Linked DNA regions of Homo sapiens: region 2 is linked to region 1. Evidence: fine-mapped expression QTL. A gene starts in region 1. The other region holds a variant in brackets. All regions are shown on one strand. Distances are between the middles of the regions.

The links. PIP is the estimated chance that this variant, and not a neighbour inherited with it, causes the effect.
Region 2: its variant is fine-mapped to the expression of SLITRK4 in whole blood (TOPMed, PIP above 0.99). The same link has a PIP of 0.9 or more in lung.

Annotation. Positions count from the first base shown.
Region 1 is chrX:143,629,568-143,641,640 of GRCh38, forward strand. It overlaps SLITRK4 (SLIT and NTRK like family member 4), which reads right to left and starts at 6,534. Exons shown (of 2, transcript NM_001184749.3): 1 at 6,168-6,534; 2 at 1-1,591. The coding sequence starts at 1,541.
Region 2 is chrX:143,475,601-143,487,673 of GRCh38, forward strand. No RefSeq gene overlaps it. Among named protein-coding and RNA genes, the nearest start is that of SPANXN3, 36 kb to the right of the region's middle. The variant G/C (reference allele first, on the strand shown) is at 6,412.

The DNA.
Region 1 (12,073 bases):
CTGACAGGCAGGTACATGAATTTGTTGTTCCTCAGGTTCAGTCTAGCTAAGGGTGCTCCGGAAAAGATGTAAACAGGCAGGCTCTTTAGGAGATTATTGTTTAAGTACAGTAACTGCAAATTTGGCATGGAGTCAAAGGTGCCTGCTGAGATTTCCTTAATCAAATTGTATTCCAAATACAGATACTGCAGGTTATGAAGACCTGAAAATATTTCAGGATAGAGTCTCTCAATTTGATTGCCATTGAGATATAGCCTGCGTAAATTAGTGAGATTGTGAAATACGTCTCCCTTAATCACTGTAATTTGATTGCTGCCTAAATGAAGCAAATCCAGTCCTTCAAAGTCAGTGAAGTCTGATACGTCCACATCCTTGATGCTATTGCCATTGACGTGCAGCTTCTTCGCATTTAAAGGTTTCGGTATCAGTTCAGACATAGACTGTATATTTTTCTCTTGGCAGTTCACACTTAGTCCCAAATCTGAAGGGTGTGTTTTGCAGAAGCAAGGTGCCGGGCAAGGTGTTAGAGGAGGCACCCTTGTTTGGTAAGACACAATCTGACTGAGATTGCGGTTGGAGAGGGCTTTGCCTGCAACGATTCCAGAGATCTTGGAAGGATTTGTTGTTTTTGGTGGTTTAGTTACTAATCTGTGTAAAGATGTTTGGGTAGTGTGACCATTGGGAGTGGTGTAGCCATTTTCCAGCTGAGATGGAGGCAGGATGCGCACGTCAAAATCACTGCCGGTGCCCATGGGACATAGCTCTTGTTTGTTGGTTTCTTTTAAAAGCCTTCCATATAAGTCACTGGGAGTTTCACAGATAGCTTCTCCTATGTAAATGTTATATGGCATGTTCTCCAGCCAAGCTTTTAAGGGCAATAAATCACAGCTACAGTTCCAAGGGTTATCTTCCAGTTGCAATTCAACGACACGGCCAATGTGTTCCAGAACCCCGATATAAGGGAGCTTCTGGATTCTGTTCCCTCGTATATCCAGATGGGTCAAAGATGCGAATCGGAAAATATTATCAGGAAGGAATGAAATCAGATTGTCATTAAGAATGAGAACTTTCAGTTTGTGGAGCTTATTGAAGGCTCCTCGTTCAATATACTTGATTAAATTGTAGTCAGCCTGGAGATACTCCAAGTTCTCTATGCCAAGGAAAGTGTCAGCTCGGAGAATCTTTAATTCATTGTTGTTCAAGTGCAACTGCTTTAATGCACTGAGCCCAAGAAAGGCTCCTCCCTCAATGTTCTGCAGTTTATTATTCCCCAGATGCAGGGAGACTGCATGTGAAAAATTCAAGAATGTATTTGGATACAGAATATTTAAAAAATTATTTTGGAAATTGAGGTGATAAAAATTAGACCAAGGTGGTTTCAGCTGATTTGGTCTGTAGACTGAAACCTTCTCACAGTTGACATAGAGCACATTCTCAACTGACACGCAGGAACACACATTGCAAATTTCCACCGATATGTCAGAATCTGCATTTGTCGAAGAAATCAGGGCTGACAAAATCAGAAACAGCCACAGAAACATCTTCTTGCAATCAGCAAACAACTGTATGCTTCTGAATAAAGAGAAATAATCTAAAAAATAAAAAGAAAACATTTTTTCAATGGTCATTACTTGAAAAATTACTTGTATGTAAATCATACCATAGTGAACACATGGCTATAATTACCAGAGTTGTATTTGTAAGGCAATCAAACCTCCAAATAGTCTCACTCAGTCGAACAATAATAACCACTAAAACTGCCATACATTTTATTTTCCATACCTGTGGTTTATACCAAATTCACATGTGCAGAACACACAACTAACAGTAGGAAAATATATTATCAATCATGCTTAAATCTTGCAATCTGAAAATATTTTTTCCACGTGGACCGTCAAACTCTGCCCTTGAACACAGGCCTTAAGCTTCCTACTTGCACTTCAAATGACCGAGACCATCAAGTATGCCATCGAGTTTGTACCACAAAGCCATTTTGATTAGTGGATATCTATTCTCTAAGCTTCAGCTAGATAGAGAGGCTGAATTAAAAAAACAAAAACAAAAACATTAGAGCCCAGAGTTCACTGGAGGATGGAAATGGGAGGATTGGGCTGCTGTAGCAGGGACTGTTAAAAGACTAAGGAACAGTGACCTGGGAAGAGATTTGCTTGTGCTGTAGCCCCATAGGTAAGTTCATTGCTGTCAATCGGTTTACTCCTGTACACTGCTGCCTTCAAAGACACAGACGACGCTGTGCGGTTCTAGAAAAACAACTGAGTAAGGGATGGCCAAATTTTATTTTCTGGTAAATAAACAGTCTCTAATTTCCTGTCAGTCATCTCCCAAAGAGGGAGCAAAAAGCCTTTTGTCTTGGAGCCTCTGAAAGCAGCAGAGTAACCTGCTTACTCCTGCATTGCTTAGCTAATCTCCAGGCAGTCTTTCCACTTTGAGAACTGGCTCTCTTGCCTCCCTGGCCCTCTCCCACATCTTTATTTACCATTTTGAACCCAGGTCCGACTGATCCTCGGCTTAACTGCTTTATCTCTTTCACTTTGACCACAGACTGCAACTGCTGAGGAAGGGGAGTTCACACAACACAATCTTTGAGTAGCTTTTGCTACAGCACCAAATATGTTCAGTACAGCACATTTTTCGTCCTAAAATCATCAGTTCCAAACACCCACCCGCCCTTCCTAATATTACCACCCCATGTCCCTGACTGTAAACGCATAAAGAATCACTTGTTGGTAGAGTTTAATGCTTAGCAAAATAACTCATCGTTTTCAGGTCCTTAAATACTGCATATATACACAAACATACACGATGCTTCCTGGAAAAGATTAAACAACACAAGCAGAGTGCATTTTATTGATACTATTTTAGCAATATTAGTCTTTTCCATTGTGAATGGGAAGCTGGGTGCAATTTCAATATCGTTATCTCCAAATATTAATTAAATACATAAAATACCCAGGAACACACAACAAGGAAATGATGCAAAGAAAGAAGTGTCGCACAGAAACTCCTTTGTTTATTTTACCCACGAGGAATCAGCTAGTGGTAAAACCGAACATGTCTCAAGGTAGACAACCCATTAGCCATGACCCAGGAGGATTTGCATTTTAAGTAGTTTGGTTCAGAATACAGCCAGCACTGCTGAGATGCTATTTGGCTGCCATATAGACGTGCATTTCCCCTATTCACCATGAGAGCATGATTGGCATTGCAAAAAGAAGTCATAATTCTTAACTATGACATCACCTAAAGCAACTTTCATTGTAAAATCAAAATTTCACTTGATATTTTTTGCCTTGTTATGAATGTGGTTTTCAACAGCTATTTTGGTTCAGTTGAGTCATTTCTTGTTACTAAACCACCACCCCACCCACCTCAAAACAAAGAAACCCAAAAGCAACCAAACTAAAAACCAAACGCAGAAAAAAAAAAATCCTTATAATCCGAATTCAGTACAAAAACAAGAACCAGGAATCTCAACACATCTGAAAATGCATAAGGAGCTGCCCTCCTCCTGGTGATTGCTACTTTAAGTAGCAAGGGGGGGAAAAGGCACTAGTAAGAGCCAGGAAGTTCCCAAATGCAGCTCTTGTGAAACAGAGGAAGCCACAAGCAGCTGGAGGGGCAGGCAAGAGAGAGAAAGAGTCCAGTTGGTCCACCAAGGAGAGAGGAAAAGAGGTACTGAAAGGGCAAGAGACCATGGAAATGTGGAGAAAGGAAGAAAAAGAACTCGGAGAAGGGAGCTACAAAGAGGGTAAAGGGAGCACTGAATGTATGCGAATAAAGCCTCACACTCCGGTGGTACCACTGAAACATGCACATTTAAACATCAAGGGAAAAACGCAAAAAAGAAAAGAAAAAGCCCACAAAGTACCAGCTGGGTACCAAGAGCCTTCTCTGTGGCTGCTGGGAGCTGTCCGTCTTCCTCTCGGTGCCCTGAAAGACCCTTGGCTCTCACGACCAGCCAGGACTGAACAAACCTAGCCCGACCAAAAACAAATCCTGCATCCACCGGAGTGCAGCGCCTGGCACTCCGCGACTGGGAGGAGAGAAGCGGCCTGAGGGGGGCAGAACACTGATGGGCTTCAGGGCGGTGGGCCGAGGTGGCTCCCCGAGAGCTCCCTCGGGAAACCCCGCTGGCCCGCCTAAGGCTCGGATGGAGGTGGAAGAGGTTCGCGGAGAGACCCGGCCATTGCCGCCCGGGTGCGCTACCTCGGGCGGGCGGCGAGGAGGCTGGAGGGGCTGCTAGCGCGTACCGCAATGTTTTGCCGCATCCCTGTTCCCGGAGCCGGCCGCTCAGCCCCCTCCGCGTCAGGGGCCCAAGCAGCAGCCTGGCGGTCCGTGTAGCGGAGGCGGGGTACCGCGCGGGATGTCGCGGGGGCCTTCAGTCCCGCCGCTCACACATTTCTCCGCGCGCTCCCGTCCCACAAGGGGCAGCTGCCGGAGTTTCAGTGGACCTCTCTAGACCCAGGCGTGCGGTGGGTGAGGAGGAAGAGAGGCCAGATCAGGCCGCCTCGAAGACGTTGGCACTAGGGAGTCACTGACCTGCTTGCCACGGGCAGAGTGACCCTGTGGTTTTGTGGCTGCGAGCGGCGGCCCAGGCTCCCCCTTGCCTGTTCTCCCTCCCTGGCCAGCTACAAAAATCCTGCTCTCACCATGCCAGAAATCAGCTCAACATTTAGGCCCCTTGCAAAGTCGCGCTGGCAGCGCTCGCCTGGCTTTGCAGAGCTTTTAGAGTTACCCACCGGCTCTTCCTCTGGTATTCCTAGTCTTGCCGAGCGCTAGCAATCTCCGACCAACCCGCGGGCCACTGCCCCGAGCCTCAGATCCACGTCTGCGGAAAGTGGCTGCGAGTGGGGTGCAAAAATAAAGCCCAACCCAGCCCAGCGGCCCGACAGCCGGAGCCACCCGAGACCTGTACAACTTGCCCCGCCGCCCTGGCCGCTTGGGGTATGGTGGGGGGGGGGGCGGGCAGCGATGCCAAGGACACCCGGATCCTTTCCGGTCCTCAGCGGCATGAGACCGCGTCGTAGGCAGGCAAGTGGGAGGTGGAGGGCAGGATTAGCCACCTCGGCCACTTTGGCCACTCAACCGGCCCCAAACCAACAGGACCCAAACTAAAAATAATAAGCTACCTGCCCCCTCGGCTCGCGTGCGCGCGCGCGAGATCTCTCTCTCTCTCTCTGTCTCTCTCTCACACACACACACGCACGCACACGCGCTACTGAGCTGAGCGGGGAAGAGGCAGCACGCGTGTCGGTGCAGCTTGTGCAGCCCCCGCTGAAAATTCACCCACCTCTAGAGCCCAGCGTCTGGTGCAGGGCCCGCGGCGCCGTGACCTGCGCTGCTGTTTCCACGATGGTATCTATGTGATTCCGGACAGAGCTCCTCCGCGCCCGCTCGCCCGTCAAACCCACGGAGCAGCCCCAGCAGGCGAGCAGGCGGGCCGGCGGGCAGGCGGGCAGCGGCGCGCGCGCGCACCCGAGCAGACACCGCGCGCGCACCCAGCGCCTAGCACACGGGCTGCACCTTTACATACACGCGCTGAATCCCCGCCCCCGCTCTCCACCACCCCCCCCCACCCCGCACACAAGCAGTCCTTCCTCCCGACACTCGACCACTTTGACCCCCTCACATTCCTGAGCTCCTACCCCCGTCCCCCATCCAGACATGCCCATTTGATTCCTCTTCTACCCACACACCCAGAAAGACAGCGCGCTTTCCTCCCGGCATCCGCCCCCTCTTTTTGCCTAAAACATTCCCTAGGGAGGAGCGACCCCTTTCCTCAGGCGTGGAGACCCCAGTCCTCTAACAAGGGCGCACTCGCCTCCATCCCCCCCACCACATACACACACACTCGAGCCCTTTTCTTCTCTTCCAGTCCCCTAATAACGAAGGAACACACACACACACACACACACACACACACACACACACACACACACACGGGGCATTCCTTTGAGAGAGCAACCAAGAAGCCAGGAAAAGCCAAAGAAACACTGGAGAGCCTGGGGGAGGGGGGCCGAGGGAGATCGATAGGGTCGTCGAGTCTACGCGGAATTGAATAATTACAGGATGGAGGGGAATGAGTCAACAACAATGACATTCAAATGCAACAATCATACTTGGATTTTGTATCACGGGTACGGTACCTTTGGCTAATTGTCACCCCGCAGAACGGAGGGCTCCTGGAATACTTCTCCGTGGCGGTCGATCCTGGAAGGAGCCTTCTTGGGAACCAATTTCCTAGGATCCAGTAGTATTCGCACTCCCCCTACCTGTCTGCGCGTAAGGGGCCAGGGGCTTTAAGGCGAAAGTGTGAGGCTTTAGCCTAAAGTGAGACTATTTAGCCGGGTTAGAAGGAGACGGGTTAATTATCCGCACCTTAGAACTCCGTGGGCCTTTGGTGCAGAATGGGTTAAGCCGGATGATCTTGGAGCTGGGGGTGGGGATAGGGGATAGGGGATAGGGGTTGAGGAAAGAGAGGCGTGGGACTGGGAGAGATGCCGCACTTGCGACCAAAAGAAAAAAAAAAAAAAAAACTACTTTGGCTACTGAGCATGCCCAGTTCCCAGCTCAAGCCCTATAAGGGAGGCATTGTGTGCATTCCACTTCTCCGGGCTTTGGTGGTGACCGGGAGGGGAGTTTGACTGGGGAAGGGGGTGGTAGTTGGGAGACATTAGGGAAAGGGGGTTGGAGAACAAGGTTTGAAGCTTTGGGACTGCTCAGGAGGGACTGTGAAGAGAGAAAGGGAAGGGACCCACGGAGTACCTTCGGGAGACGGGGAGAAGGAGAGGAAATGGACTAAGAAAAGTCACTTCAGTCGCCCCTCATTGTGTATACCAAAGAGGCTTTAGCAGCTGAATCTGAAATATCCAGTGGCTGCAAATCCAACGTGTGGATTGTCTAGGCCCCTTCTTCTACCCTTTTTGTTAGTGCTTCCACAAGAGATAAGAAATATTCTGAGGAAGGGCCAATGTTCAAACCAGTTTCATGCAAATTGATAATTTCGTTAATAAGCTTGTTAAGAAAATAAATAAACCTGGGGGAGGGGAGCAGAGAGGAGTTGGCTATCATGTATGTATTTCAGATACCTGGCTTTCCTAAACAAAAGGCATAAACATTGGATGTGCTCCCATCCCCCAACCTTGCTGTTTTTTGTAGGAGCTTGGCTAAGAAAAACAACTCTCTCTCTCTTCGTGTCTGTGGGAATAAACTAGCTTTAGGTAAGTAGAGCTAAGTTATAAATGGGAAGTATTTCCCTAGGACTCTTGGTAGCCTATTATTTGCCACATTCAGGTAATACTGCCAGGCCCATTTCTTCAGGACCAGTGTGTTGCCCAATTTACTTATTCAAATCCCAGCGGCTCTAGCCACAATAGAGCACAACCGGTATCCAGAAATGTTCTTGCTTAAAAATGAAAAAAAAAATCTTTAAGCTAAAACTAGCAACAGCTTTGAAACCAGAATTTGGCTGTCTGCCTGAACTCCTACAGTTAAACATTTACCATAATTGGTTGATGTTTAAAGGCCCCAAATCTAGGTAGAAACATCTGATGGGCAAAGGATTTATTACATTATTTGTGAATAATGGTCTACCTTCTGTATCATCTATAGTAGTCATTCATATACATGTTTCATTGTTTTTCATTTTTTGTCATTTTATGGGACTTCCGTCAGGTTATATTCACACAAATGTTCACCGGGCACAACATGTATACAGAGATGCACGTACAATATGTAAATGAATACTTAAATAGATATGCGTGTATGGGCATATTTCTTTATGACCTTGCTAAATATTGTGTCGTTCATGAAGAACTCTTTCTCTACCTTCACTCCACATTGCCTTGAAAACTGTAATCATCCTCTCTTTTACAAACAACCTAGAGACAGAAATTGGGCAGCATTGGTAAAATTTATCTTATTCAATGTGAAATCCATTATGAAATAGCATTAAGGAAACACTAAAATATTTGTCTATAACAGCGTATGTAATTGTGCAGCTCCTTTTAGCAAAGTGAATGATGTTTCCTTCATAGGTAACAGCTGCAGAATGTTGAAAAATCCCTCTACTCTTGCACACTTGGACAAAACAGATCCTGCTAATTAATAACTCACATTTGCATTTTATTGTGTAATGCAGTTTGAAAGTAGTAATGGGTATCAAAACAAGTTGGCATTTATTCTAAATGCTAACAATTCAGGAAGCTGAATATATTTTATCCAGATAGGTGAAATGTTTGTCTTTTACTACAAATGTTAACAAGAGTCAATAGAATGAGCAAAAAAAGTTTACCTGAAAATTCTAAGTAATGTGATAACTGAAAAGGCCAGATTTGGACAGTAAATATCAGATGATTTAAATGCCTATCTTTATTCAACTTTAGAAACTGTTCTGAGACTTGGCTATATTTAACTGCAATAACTGTGAAATGTTATTTTTCATATGGATATGGAGACAAATCTGAAAGCCACTGTAGCTAGATCATCGATAAATTACAATTCATAATATTCCTAAGAACTTATCTGTGATTAATATTCAACTTTTTTAAATGAATGCTTTAAAATAAAATGTTTTGCTACTTAAAAAGATAAAGTGGACACTCATAAAATAAAACAGAAGTAACAACTTCCATGTTTTATGCTTATTTTGCTTTCAAAGTAATTAACCCAATCCTTTAGTCCCACAGTCCCTTTTCCGTCCCCTAGAACTACAGGTGACATCCCAATAGAACAGTAGGAAATGACACAGAATTGCTAGCTTAACAAAGGAAGTGAATATATACATAAATAAAAGTGTTAAGAAAACTCCAGCACTATTTATGGCCATTGAAAGAAAAACAAAATTGATGTTCTTCCTAAAATGTAAGCATGCAAATATTGTGAGTTTTGCAATACTCTCACGGTCTTCCTCCAAATGTTTTACCTTATTTCATCTTGACTTTTTAGGAGTACAACCAGAATCGTAGGTCTACACTGATATACTGTGTCTCCCTCCATCAGGGAAAAAAACAACTGCACTAAGAATTTCAACAAGATCCTGTATACCCTCCGTTCCGAAGGCAGTTTGGAATTAAGTCATTAAAACACTACCAACCGAAAGTGATTATAATGCCAAGTCTTGGCCCTAGTCAGCGGTCTTTCACTTTCACTGTATTCCTCATTTATCTTGCCTTGTCTTAGGCTGCTGCTCAAAATCAAATCAGCCTTAATTTTCGTATCCAGGTATCACAGATGATTCAGTGTATTTTAATATTGAAGATTTATTTATATTCTGGCATTTTAACAGTTACAAACTTGCTATTTCTCTTTCATTTTTATTTATTTATTTTTGAGACAGAGTCTCACTCTGTCACCCAGGCTGGAGTGCGTTAGTGTGATCTCGGCTCACTGCAACCTCTGCCTCCTGGGTTCAAGCAATTCTCCTCCCTCAGCCACCTGAGTGGCTGGGATTACAGGCATGTGCCACCATGCCCGGTTAATTTTTGTATTTTTAGTAGAGATGGAGTTTCACCATGTTGTCCAGGCTGTTCTCAATCTTCTGACCTCAGGTGATCCGCCCATCTCGGCCTCCTAAAGTTCTGGGATTACAGGCGTGTGCCACCGTGTCCGGTCACACACTTGCTATTTCTCTAAGTGGAATACAAGAAAGTTCTTAGGATGTTAATATATCTTCTGGGAAGAAATGTTTCCATGATCAAATAAGTTTAAAAGACCCTTGGTTCCGTAAAGCTAAACATTTTATTTTTACTTTGGGATTTTTCAACACAATTAATTATGTTTAAATGAGCTTTTATTTACCAAGGGAAAAGGGATATGGCATGTGGCATTTCACAGACTTACTTAACAATGGAACCCTTTTTTCTATCTATATAATTTGAAAAACATACTAATAGCCCATTTTTACAAATTTTCTGGAATTTAGAACATGAAAGGAAGTTTTCAGATCATAATTAACCCATTCAATAGTAGCTACTGTCTGTTGAGTGCCTCTTCTTTGCTGTGCTGCCTACAAATATTATTTCATTTAGTTCTATGAACAAGGAAGGGATTATCATACTTATTTTAAAAATGAGGTTAAGTGACCAGGCATGGTGGCCCATTCCTGTAATCCCAGCACTTTGGGAGGCTGAGGTGGGGAGATCACTTGAGCCCAGGATTTCAAAACCAGCCTGGGCAACATGGGAAAAATCGTCTCTACAACAAATACAAAAATCAGTGGTGCATGGTGGCACATGCTTGTAGCCCCAGCTGCTTGGAAGGCTGAGGCGGGAGGATCACTTGAGCCCAGGAGGTCAAGGCTGCCATCAGCTGTGGCCATGCCACTGCGCTGCAGCCCAGCCAACAGACTGAGACTCTCTCAAAATAAAATAAAATAAAATAAAATAAAATAAAATAAAATAAAATTCAGGGAAGGTAAACAGTTTGCCCGAGGTCACATGGTGAGTAAGTGATGGTCAAGATTTGACCCCAGATCTTTGAGGTTTTTCCAGTACACCACATTTTCGTTTTCACAGGGGGATTAGGGAATTTTTAACTTTGAAAGCAGAATAGACTTGAAAGCTGGGCAGGGTGACTTAACGCCTGTATTCTCAGCACATTGGGATGCCAAGACAAACAGTCTGGGCAGCAAGGTGAAAAGCCATCTCTTTAAAAAATAAATTTAAAAAAATAGCCAGGCATCGTGGGGTGCACCTGTAGTCCCAGGTACTAGGGAGGCTGAGGTGGGAGGATCGCTCAAGCTTAGGAGGTCAAGGCTGCAGTGAGCCATCATCAAGCCACTGCACTCTAGCCTGAGCGACAGAGTGACCCTGTCTCAAAAAAAGAGAAAGGGATAGATTTGAAAGCAGAATAAATTTTCCAAAGATGAATACTTGAGACATAAATGTTTTCAAGTATTAAAGTATGAATACTCAGCACAGGAATAAACAAATAAATGACATTAAAAACAGTTCACATCAATTATGCATGACAAGGTCTCTTGAATCAACTGATTTTACCTTTTGCCAGTAGTAGCCTTGTTCTATCCATTCTGCTCTTTCAACTCTCATACCTGAGTTGATTCTGAATCTGTGATGATGTCTCAAATGTTCCTTATTAGGGATAATCACTTTCACTATCACCAAATGAAGCCATGTGTATTAGTCAGTGTTCTCTAGAGGGACAGAACTAATATATATACACACACACACACACACACACACACACACACATATATATATACACACACTTATATATTTTATATATACATATATATATATATATATATATATATATATATATATATATATATGGGAGTTTATTAAGTAGTATTAACTCACATGATCGCAAGGTCCCCCATTAGGCTGTCTGCAAGCTGAGGAGCAAGGAATCCAGTCTGAGTCGCAAGGCTAAAGAACTTGGAGTCTGATGTTCAAGGGCAGGAAGCATCCAGCATGGGAGGAAGATGTAGGCTGGGAGGCTAAGCCAGTCTCACCTTTTTACATTTTCCTGCCTACTTTACATTCCCTGGCAGCTGATTAGATGGTGCCCACCCACATTAAGGGTGGGTCTGCCTTTCCCAGCCCCCTGACTCAAATGTTAATCTCCTTTGGCAACACCCTCACAGACACATCCAGGATCGATACTTTGCATCCTTTAATCCAATCAAGTTGACGCTCATTATTAACCACCACACCAAGCAAAGCAGTAGTGTTCATCCCTAGACTTATTCCAGTTAAGACAAAAGGATTGTTATAAAATAGGATACCAAATGAATTGGAAAATGTGAGACTAGTTGATTATTTGATTAGGTTATATCAATTAACCTGACCTTCCATTTTGCTCAGACTTCTTTATAGTACAGCTGGTAACCTGGTGTCCTTTTCAGAAACTCAGGCATCAGGTGTGAATGTATTACAGTCTGTGTAGCAAGGCATTGGCTAATTTTTCAAATAACACTTCACTCAGAAATTATTATTTCTAGAATAATAATAAAGAGGGGTATGTTGTTTTGCAGGGTCTTTGTAACTTTGGCCCCTAATGGGTACTTGTCCCTATGGCTAACTAGAACTAC
Region 2 (12,073 bases), 150 kb before region 1:
AAAATTACATTTTCTAAATATAGGGTACCCTTAAAATGCATCATTTAAACTGGGAACCTTTGAGAGGTAAAGAGGGCTGTGACAATACTTTTGGCTGATCACAGGAACAAACAGACTGCCTCAGGCCATCTGAGACATAATATTCCTCTACTCAAATGTATATTAGTCAACTTTTACATAGTTAAATTTGGTTTAAAAACATCCAGATTCCTAGTTAACTTTCATTCAGGTTATAAAAAGATAGGTAGCCAATACAATTAATCTGATGACCTGTATTATATATTGACACGGTTTGGCTGTGTCCCCACCCAAATCTCATGTTGGGTCATAGCTCCCATATTTCCCATGTGTTGTGTGAGGTACCCAGTTGGAGGTAATTAAATCATGGGGGCAGGTATTTCCCATGCTGTTATCATGTTAGTGAATAAGTCTCTTCAGATTTGATGGTTTTATAAAGGGGAGTTCCCCTACAGAACCTCTCTTGCCTGTTGCCATGTAATACATGACTTTGCTCTTTGTTTGTCTTCTGCAATGATTGTGAGGCCTCCCCAGCCACGTGGAACTGTGAGTCAATTAAACCTCTTTCCTTTGTAATTACTCAGTCTCGGTATGTCTTTATTAGCAGCATGAGAACAGATTAATACAGTAACTTGGTACCAGTAGAGTGGGATGCTGATGTAAAGATACCTGAAAATATGGAAGTGACTTTAAAACTCCGTAACAGGCAGAGAGGTTGGAACAGTTTGGAGGACTCAGAAAAAGACAAGAAAATGTGGAAAAGTTTGCGGCTTCCTAGAGACTTGTTGAATGACTTTGGCCAAAATGCTGATAGTGATATGGACAATAAAGTCCAGGCTGAGGTGGTCTCAGATAGAGATGAGGAACTTGTTGAGAACTAGAATAAGGTCACTCTTGCTATGCAAAATCACTGGAGGCATTTTGCCACAGCCCTAGAAATCTGTGGAACTTTGAACTTGAGAGAAATAATTTAGGGTATCCGGCAGAAGGAATTTCTGACTGGCAAAACATTCAAGAGGGAGCAGAACATAAAAGTTCAAAAAATTTGTAGCCTGGCTATGCATTAGAAAAGAAAACCTCATTTTCTGGGGAGAAATTTAAGCCTGCTGCAGAAATTTGCAATAGTAATAAGGAACCTCATGTTAATCACCAAGACAATGGGAAAGATGTCTCCAGGGCATGTCAGAGACCTTTGTGGCAGTGCCTCCTATCACAGACCTGAAGGCCTAGGAAGAAAAAAAAATGCTTTCCTGGGCTGAGCCCAAGACGCCTCCCTGCTGTATGCAACCTAGGGACTTTGTGCCCTGCATCCCAGCCACGGCAGCTGTGGCTAAAAGTGGCCAAGGTACAGCTTGGGTCGTGGCTTCAGAGGGTGCAAGCTTCAAGCATTGGCAGCTTCCGTGTGGTGGTGAGCCTGTGGTTGCACAGAAGTCAAGAATTGAGGTTTGGGAACATCTGCCTAGATTTCAGAGGATATATGGAAACACCTGGCTGTCCAGGCAGATGTGTGCTGCAGGGGCACAGCCCTCATGGAGAACCTCTGCTAGGGCAGTGCAGAAGGGAAATGTGGGGTCAGAGCCCCCACAGAGTTCCCACTGGGGCACTACCTAGTGGAGCTGTGAGAAGAGGGCCACTGTCCTCCAGACCCCAGAATGGTAGATCCACCAAGAGCTTGCACCATGTTCCTGGAAAAGACACAGACACTCAGCATCAGCCCATGAAAGCAGCCAGGAGGGGGGCTGTACCATGAAAGCCACAGGGACAGAGTTGCTCAAGGCCATGTGACCCCACCTCTTGCATTGATGTGACCTGGATGTGAGACACGGAGTCAAAGGAGATCATTTTGGAGCTTTAAGATTTCATTGCCCTGTTAGATTTCAGACTTTAATGGGGCCTGCAGCCACTTTTTTTGGCCAATTTTTCCCATTTGGAATGGGTGAATTTGCCAAACGCCTGTACCCCCTTGTATCTTGGAAGGAACTAACTTGCTTTTCATTTTACAGGCTCATAGGTGAAAGGGACTTGCCTTGTCTCAGATGAGACTTTGGACTGTGGACTTCTGAGTTAATGCTGAAATGGGTTAAGACTTTGGAGGGCTGCTGGGAAGTCATGACTGGTTTTGAAATCTGAAGACGTAAAATTTAGGAAGGGCTAGGGACAGAATGATATGGTTTGGCACTGTCTTCAGTTAAATCTCATCTTGAACTGTAGCTCCCATAATTCCCACACATCATAGGAGAGACCCAGTGGGAGGTAATTGAATCATGGGGACAGGTCTTTCCTGTACTCTTCTCATGATAGTAAGTCTCATGAGATCTGATGGTTTTATAAAAGGGAGTTCCCCTACACAAACTCTCTTCTCTGCTGCCATATGAGACATGACTTTGCTCTTCATTTGTCTTCTACCATGATTGCGAGGCCTCCCCAGCCATGTGAATCTGTGATTCAATTAAACCTCTTTCCTTTATAAATTACCCAATCTCGAGTATGTCTTTATTAGCAGTGTGAGAAGAGACTAATACATATATATTTTTGTTTCTTTTTCCCCGTGTCATTTCACTTATGACACACAAACATTATCATTTTTGACAGAGGAGGAAGTAGTTTATGCAACCAGTCAGAAACTCACAGATCAGTAAAGAGAACTAGCATTTATTCTAGGTGTCTGGACTGCCAAGTCAGATAATAAATGACAGAATTGAGATTAAAATACAAATATGTCTACCTTTAGGTCCATGTTCTCTCCACCCACAGCACAACAACACTTATTAATGCTTTCTCAGTGGGTGGGGATGAAAACAAATCATATAGCTCATGAGTTGATGAATATTTAAGCTGAGCGACGGGTAAATAGAAGCTAATTACACTAGTCAATGTTTTGTTTGTGTTTGTCATTTTCCATAATAAAAAGTCTGTTTTAAATAGCTTTTCTTCTTTTCACTTCACTGACTTCAACTTTCCTTAAATGCTAGGTTTAGTATTAGTGCATATGCATTGCCATTTTTCTTTAAGTTTTTATGATGATAACATTAATATATACTCATTTAAAATATTCAGAAAGTACAAGTGTATAAAATAGAAAATAAATCATTTATAACCCACTTACCCGGAAATGAATATTTTAATATATTGATGTCTCATTTTCTATTTCATTTTTTCTTTTTATTGTGTTTTGAAATACACATGAAATTTACCAAATTAAATATTTTAAAGTGTACATCTAAGTGGTATTGAGTATATTCACAACGTTGTGCAACCATCAACACCACCTAGTTACAGTACCTTTTCATCACTACAAAGGAAATTCCAAAACTAATGTATCACTTAATCACTCCCCATTCTCCCCTGGCCCTGGCAACCACTAACCTGCCTTCTGTCTTTATGTATTTGCCTATTTTGGACAGTAACATATAGATGTAAAATATTATATATAATATTACATATATGTAATATTTTACATATATAAATGTAATCATATAGTATTTGTTTTTTGTGACTAGTTTATTTCACTTAATTTTTTCAAGATTCATTCATACTGTATAATATATCAGTACTTCATTCCTTTTATGCCTGAATAATGTTTCATTGTATACATATACCACATTTCATTTATCTGTTCATCAGTTGATATGAATTGGAGTTGCTTCTACCTTTTGGTAATTTTTAATAATGCTAATGTCTACAGTATTTTTAAATTAACTGTGTTAAGTTATTCTTACATTGCTATACAGAAATACCTAAAATTAGTTAATTTATGAGAAAAAAGGTTTAATTGGCTGATAGTTCTGCAGGCTGTACAAGGATGGTGCTAACATAATTTAGCTTCTGGGGAGGCCTCAGGGACCTTTTACTCAATACAGAAGGTGAAGGGGAAGCAAGCAAATGACATAGTGAAAGCAGGACAAATCACATAGTGAAAGCAAGAGAGAGTGAGAGGGAGGTGCCACACACTTTTAAATGATCAGATCTCATGAGAACTATCACAAAGATAGCACCAAGCTGTAAATGATCCATCCCCTTGATCCATACACCTCCAACCAGGCATTGAGAATTGCAGTTCAACATGAGATTTGGGCAGGGACAAATAGCTAAACTATATCGCTGACTTTTCATTTTTAAATAACATTTAATTCACATGCACTTGTAGTATATAATACAGACAAATTTCCCTGTACTCTTTACCTACTTTCCCCCAGTGGTAGCTTCTTTAAAACTATGCTACAATATCACCTCCAGGATACTGATGTTGGTACAGTCAAGATACAGATTAGTTCATCACAATAAAACCTCATATTGCCCTTTCATAGCCACACACACACCTGTCTACTGCTACCATTCCCTCAGTAACCCCAATAACCATGAAACTCATATTTTCTATAATTTTGATATTTCAAGAACATTTCATAAATAAAATTATATACTATGTAACATTTGGGATTCTTTTCCACTCAGGATAATATTTCGGAGTCTATGCAGGTTGTTTTATGTGTCAATGTTTTATTCTATTTTATTGCTGAGTAATATTCTGAAATCTGTGTGAACATATGTTTCCGTTTCTCTGGGACAAATGCACGGTTGTATGTATAGCTTTTGTTGTTACTTTTTATTGTTTCTTTTTTTTTAAGTGCCAAACTGCTTTGTAGAGTGGCTTCTTTGCCTTTTAATATTTTATTCGGTTATAACTAAGTGGTTCTGTTACTCTGGATTCTTGCCAGCAGTTGGTATTGTCATTACTTTTTCTCCTTTAACTTTTATTTGAAGTTCAGGAGTAATATGTAGGTTTGTTACATAGTGTTATATAGGTAAACGTTTCATGGGGGTTTGTCATACAGATTATTTCCTCACCCACCCATTAAGCCTAGTATCCATTAGTTATTTTTTCTGGTCGTCTCCATCATCCCAACCTCCACCCTCTGATAGGCCACTCTATTGCTCTGCTCTATGTGTCTACGTGCTCTCATTATTTTGTTCCCACTTATAAGTGAGAACATGCAGTATTTGGTTTTGTGTTCCGGCATTAGTTTGCTAAGGATAATGGCCTCCAGCTCCATCCATGTTCCTTCAAAGGATATAATTTTGCTAGTTTTTAGGGCTGCATAGTATTCTGTGGTGTATATGCACCACATTTTCTTTATTTAATCTCTCATTGATGGACATTTTGGTGGATTTCTTCCTGGTTCAGTCTTGGGAGTGTATATGTGTCCAGGAATTTATTCATTTCTTCTAGATTTTCTGGTTTATGTGCATAGAGGTGTTCATAATATCCTCTGATGGATATTTGTATTTCTGTGGGTTCAGTAGTAATATCCCCCTTGTTGTTTCTGATTGTGATTATTTGGATCTTCTCTACTTTTTTCTTTCTTAGTCTAGCTATCAATCTATCTATTTTATTAATTGTTTCCAAAAAGCAGTTCCTAGATTCATTGATCTTTTCGATGGTTTTTTTGTGTGTATGTCTCAATGCCCGTATTAGTCAGTTTCTCTACAGGGACAGAACTAATAGGATAGATATATATGTATAAAAAGGTATTATTAAGTATTAACTTACACAATCACAAGGTCCGACAATAGGTTGTTTGCAAGCTGAGGAGCAAAAAGAGCCAGCCCGAGTCCCAAAACTGAAGAACTTGGAGCCTGATGTTCTAGGGCAAGAAGCATCCAGCACTTGAGAAAGATGTAGGCTGGGAGGCTAGGCCCGCCTCTCCTTTTCAGGTTTTTCTGACTGCTTTATATTTGCTGGCAGCTGATTAGATTGTACCCACCAGATTAAGGGTGGATCTGCCTTCCCCAGCCCACTGACTCAAATGCTAAATCTCTTTTGGCAACACCCTCACAGACACACCCAGGATCAATACTTTATATCCTTCAATCCAATCAAGTTGTTACTCACTATTAACCATCACAGTTCCCTTCAGTTCAGATCTGATTTTCTTTATTTCTTGTCCTCTGCTAGCTTTATAGTTGGTTTGTTCTTAGTTCTCTAGTTCCTCTGGCTGTGATTTTAGGGTGTCAAATTGAGATCTTTCTAAGTTTTATGTGGGCATTTAGTGCTATAATTTTCCTTCCTAACATGTCTTAGCTGTGTCCCAGAGATTCTGGTATGTTGTATCTTTATTCTCATTAGTTTCAAATAACTTCTTAATTTCTGCCTTAATTTTATTATTTACACAAAAGTCATTCTGCAGCACACTATTCAACTTCAATATAACTGTGTGGTTTTGAGTGAATTTCTTAGTCTTTATTTGTAATTTGATTGTGCTGTGGTCTGGGATACTGTTTGTTATTATCTCAGTTCCTTTGCATTTACTGAGGAGTATTTTATTTCTGATTATGTAATCAATTTTAGAGTGTGTACCATGTGGCAATGAGAAGAACGTATATCCTGTTGTTTTG[G/C]GGTGGAGAATTTTGTTGATGTCTGCCAGATCCATGTGATCCAGTGCTGAGTTGAGATCCTGAATATCTTAATTAATATTCTGTCTCAGTGATCTGTCTGATGTTGTTGGTGAGGAGTTTAACGCTCCCACTATTATTGTGTGGGAGTCTAAGTTTCTTTGAAGATCCCCAAGAACTTGATTTATAAATCTGGGTGCTCCTCTGTTGGGTACATGTATATTTAGAACAGGTTGGTCTTGTTGAATTGAACCCTTTACCATAATGTAATGCCTTTTTTGTCCTTTTTGATCTTTGCTCAGTTAAAGCCTGTTTTGTCTGGAACTAGGCTTGTGACCCTCGCTATTTTCTGTTTTCCATTTGCTTGGTAGATTTTTGTCCATCCCTTTAATTTGAGCCTATGTGTGTCATTGCATGTGAGATGGGTCTCTCGAAGAAAGCATGCCAATGTGTCTTGGTTCTTTATGCAGCTTGCCACTCTGTGTCTTTTAATTGTGACGTTTAGCTCATTTACATTTAAGGTTAGTATTAACATGTGTGGATTTGATTCTGTCATCTGTTAGCTGGTTATTTTGCAGGCTTGTTTATGTGGTTGCTTTTTATTGTCACTGGTCTGTGTACTTCAGCGTGTTTTTGCAGTGGCTAGTAATGGCCTTTCTTTCCATATTTAGTGCTTCCTTTAGGTGCTCTTGTAAGGTATGTCTGGTGGTAATGAATTTCTTTAGCATTTGCTGGTCTGAAAAAAATCCTACTTCTCCTTCACTTATTAAGCTTAGTTTGGCCAAATATGAAATTCTGGGTTGGAATTTTTTTAGGAATATTGAATATTGGTCCCCAGTCTCTTCTGGCTTGTAAGGTTTATGCTCAGAAGTTTGCTGTTAGTCTAATGGCTTCCCTTTGTAGGTGACCTGCCTTTCTCTCTAGCTGCCTTTAACATTTATTCTTTCAGTTCAGCCTTGGAAAATCTGACGATGATGTGTCTTGAGGATGACATTCTTGTGAAGTATCTTACTGGGGTTCTCTGCATTTCCCGAGTTTAAATGTTGGCCTCTCTATCTAGGTTGGGAATGTTCTCATGAATGACATCCTAAAATATCCTTTCCAAGTTGGTTCCATTCTCCCTATCTCTTTCAGGGACACTAATGAGTCACAGATTTGTTATCTTTACATAATCCCATATTTCTCAGAGGTTTTGCTCATTCCTTTTTATTTTTTTTCTCTATTCTTGTCTGAGTGTCTTATTTCAGAAAGCCAGTATTCATTGTCTGAGGTTCTTTCCTTCAGTTGGTCTACTCTGCTATTTATACTCGTGATTGCATTATGAAGCTTTTGTAGTGTGCTTTTGAGCACACTACAAAAACATTTGTTAAAATTTATTAAACTACATTGATACTATTACAATCACAAAAGTCCATAGTTTACATTAGGGTTCACTCTTAGTGTTGCACATTCTATGGACTTAGACATATGTATGAAATGTCTCCACAGTTATAAAATCATACAGAGGAGTTTCACTGCCCTAGACATTATCTATGCACTGCCTATTTATTTCTTCCTCCCTCTAACCCCTGGCAACTACTGATATTTATTACTGTTTACATAGTTTTTTCTTTTACAAAATGATATAGAATCAGAATTGTAAAATAAATATATCCTTTTCAGATTGGCTTCTTTCATTTAGCAATATACATTTAAGGTTCCTCCAGATCTTTAGACGGCTTGACAGTTCACTTCCTTTTAGCACTTAATAATAATTCATTGTTGGAGTGTGCCAGAGTTTATTTATCCATTAACCCACAGAAGGATATCTTGGTTGCTTGAAAGATTTTGGCAATTATAAATAAAACTGCTTGACAGAACAGACCATGTCTATTGTCAGTACTGAGTTGGAGGTCACTGCAGCACTCTCACCAGGGTGTATGGGAGATAATAAGGAAACCCTGGGAACTCATCATCATGTTGTTCCCCAAGTCCTAAAGTCCCTATGAAGTCTGGCATCTTCTTTTCACTTCTCAGAGTCTTCCTATGCTTATTTGTTGTGTTATATGTAAACTTTTTTAGTTATAGAATAGTAAGGCTATTCTATCTTTGTAGAATCAAAAGTAGTCCCTCAGAGTCTAATTTTATGCATATAAATAATATATTTTGCCTAAATTGGCTCAATCTTAAACTTATTTATTTAAATAAGAATTAGAAAATTCTTTAAAAAATTTTAGAAGAATATTTAAACAAAACATAAAGTCATAGTTGGTTTGCATGTTTGTTTGATTTTTTATTTGTAAAATAAGAAACTAGAACTGGTTGTCCTCTAATATCTTTCTATCTCTGGCAATCTAGGATCCTAAATACAGTCTAGAAATAGAATAAATGATGGTTCCAACCCACTTAGTATAAAACTTCAGTCTTCATCATTGTAATAAATCTTCAGAGATGTATCTTGACCTTTTAACTTCAGGATCTAATATTTTCTATTTGACAGATAATTCATTCAGCCTATACAAGAGGTTAATTTTGTTTCTCCATGCAAATCTCTGGACTCAGTACAAATAGAATGTTTGTGGTTGACTAATTGCAGTGTCAATATCATAATTATTAAAAGAATGTATGAAAATAGAAAACATATGTTCACATCAAAGCTTCAAGTTTGTGTGGTCTTTCAAACAGTAGGGATCATCTTGGTTAAGGCAGCATGAGCTCTGGTGTACACAGACCTCCAGCTATGTTCACATTAGAGTGAATCCCAACTTCCTCACTTCTTACCTGTGTGAATTGGAAAAGTCACTTAACCTCAGATACTTCATCTCTAAAATAAGAACACTTATCTATCTCATGAATTTGTTACAAGGATTGCACAAAAATAATGTCTGGAAAAAATAAGCCCTCAATAATAACAGCTAATGATAAAATCTTCATCATGAAAATACATATCATCAAAATCATCATCTCTATGCTTAATCTATATAGTAGAAAATGGTGACTGTTGTTAAAATTAAATAAGCTAAATGGGTATAAAATGCTTAGATTCATGCTTAGCATATATTTTACACTCAATAAATATTCAAACTTATTGCTTATATCTATAAATTTATTACAGTTTCTTACCAACTAATACTGGAATATCAAGTCAGTACAGTGAAGACTGAAAAAACCTTGATTTGTAACTGAACTGACTAGCTGTTTGCACATCAGGCAGTCATGCTCTCACTTTGTCAGCTATGTAAATACTTTAAATGGCCTAAATTACTCTAGCGAATTCAAGACATCTGCTTTAAAATGGAAAACACTTAAAACAATCATAAGGCCTGATTTTCCTAAGTTTCCTAATCATTTTTAAGTACCTAAGATGTGGAGGCCTTGATTTGAATTTGCCAATTTCTGTAAGCTTGCAGAGTTGAGTCTTAGTCATAGGCCTTTCCATCAACCACAACCTCAATGCGTTGTGGAAGATGTAAAATTTTCATCTAGTTTTATAATATAATAGTAAAGTCCCAAACTTTTCTGAGAATATCTAAATGAAGCCTCAAAATTACTCCAAGCCATGTCTTCTTGTGAAAGCAATACACAACCAACTGCATTTAAAACGTAATGATCATATTCAAAAATGATGTCAAAAGTACATTCAGACAGTGTAAAGTTATGGTACAATCTTTAAAAATATAATCTGCAGTTTTTGCAAGCACCATGAAATATCTTTTATTAAGTGAAATTTTACTGACCACATTGCTTTTCTGCCACTCTGCTCTGGGCACACACACCTTCTGAAAACCAAATTTATTTAGAATTGGCTTATGTATAACAGGAAATGATTATCTTTGCTCACTAATAGAGAAATAGTTAAGCAATTGATCCGTTCATGGAATTATGATAAAATAATTAAAAATATTATCTTGGAGACTTTAGCAGCATGAAAAAATAATTGTGTTGCAATGTTCGATGATAAAAACACTATGCAAAGATGTATCTGGGAAATGTTTTAACAATGTAAAATATGCACACATATTGTCAACAGCAGTAATGGACACGGAAAAAATGGAAACAACTGATGGGGTAATGGGAATGTAGATACACTTATTCCCATTGATTCTCATTAACAGTTGCTGGGACAATGAAATAATGAAGTGGAACCCAATCCTGCAAGGAATTTGAATTTATCAGCTTTTTATTTTTCTAATCACATTTCTGCGTCCTATCTCTAAAGCTTCATTGCCACTGCTGGGCTTTAGAGATGCTGAATAAGCTTGAAAGACCTGGCTCCTTTGTCCGTCCCCTAGCCAAACTCTCCACACGTTGTGGCTGCACGCTGACGCATGGTTTCGATTCCCTTCTACAGACCACTGGTTAACGTCTACACAGCTTCACTCACCAGGCATAAGATAACTTCATCCGTATTGGAGCATACTGGACCATTCCAGAACATTATTTCTTTGCCTCTTAGTATCTCTGCACACATCTCAGCCCTACTTTAATCCCCTGAAAAATGGAGTAATACAGTCTCCATGCTAAGGTATCCATTTCCCTCAGCTTTTTCTCTCCCCAAAGTCTGGTCTGCAAAAAACCTAACCTCTGCTCAGCCATTCATTCACAATCCCTTTGCCCTTCAAAAATTCCCAGGCCTCTGTTTCCTGTGACTCCCTTCACATCTCCTTGTAAGTTCTTATGCCTCTGGAATAAATTCTAAGACAAGTTTTGCCAACGATGTGATACAACTTGCATAGCAATTTCATTGCTTTAGCAGTGCCAACCAGATTATAAGCCTTGGTTATCCTAAAAAACTCAGTGTATCATTAGTACGCATGTCAGCTGCTCTGGAAGTTTGATAAGACGTACAATTACAAATTTTCATGTCATTATTATTTTGGAAAGACAATGTACTTGCTTACCTTGCTACTGAAAAAAAGCATGCACTTTATATAAAAGCCATCAGATATTTTTTCAATTAATTCAGTTTCCTTGAAACTATGTCAGAAGAGTAACAAAAATACCCAAAGAAGAGAAAAGCTATGATATAGTCATGTCTCATATAATTAAGATAAATTTCAAAATGATATGGCACTGCCATTTCACCCCATCAAAAGCTCCTCACAAAATAAAGAGAAACTTTGTGGCCATTATATAAGTTCAAAACCAAAGTATATTCCTTATTCCATCTATAGTATTTGTACTAGACCAATCTTGCATTACTATAAAGAAATACCTGAAACTGGGTAATTTTAAAAAGAAGTTTAATTGGCTCACATTTATACTTGGAGGAAGACAAAGTGGGATCAGGCATCTCATGCAGCAGAGCGGAAGCAAGAGGGGAATGGGAGTTACCACACACTTTCAAATGACCAGATCTCAAGAGAACTCATTCATTATTGCAAGAACAGCACCAAGCCATGAGGGAATCTGCCCTCATGACCCAAACACCTACCACCAGGACCCACTTCCACCACTAGGGATTACATGTCAACATGAGATTTGGGTGGGGACAAATATCCAAACCATATCAATATGGCGGTAAAAAAGTAAAAGCTCTGGATTCCACCCGGGTTCAAACAGCTTCACCAGGACAAGCTTCTTCCCTTTTCTCAACTTCACCTTTCTTACCTGTGAAATGGAAAGAGTGATATGACAGACTTCATAAGGTTGTAGTGAAGATTAAATGAGATAATATGAAGTGCTT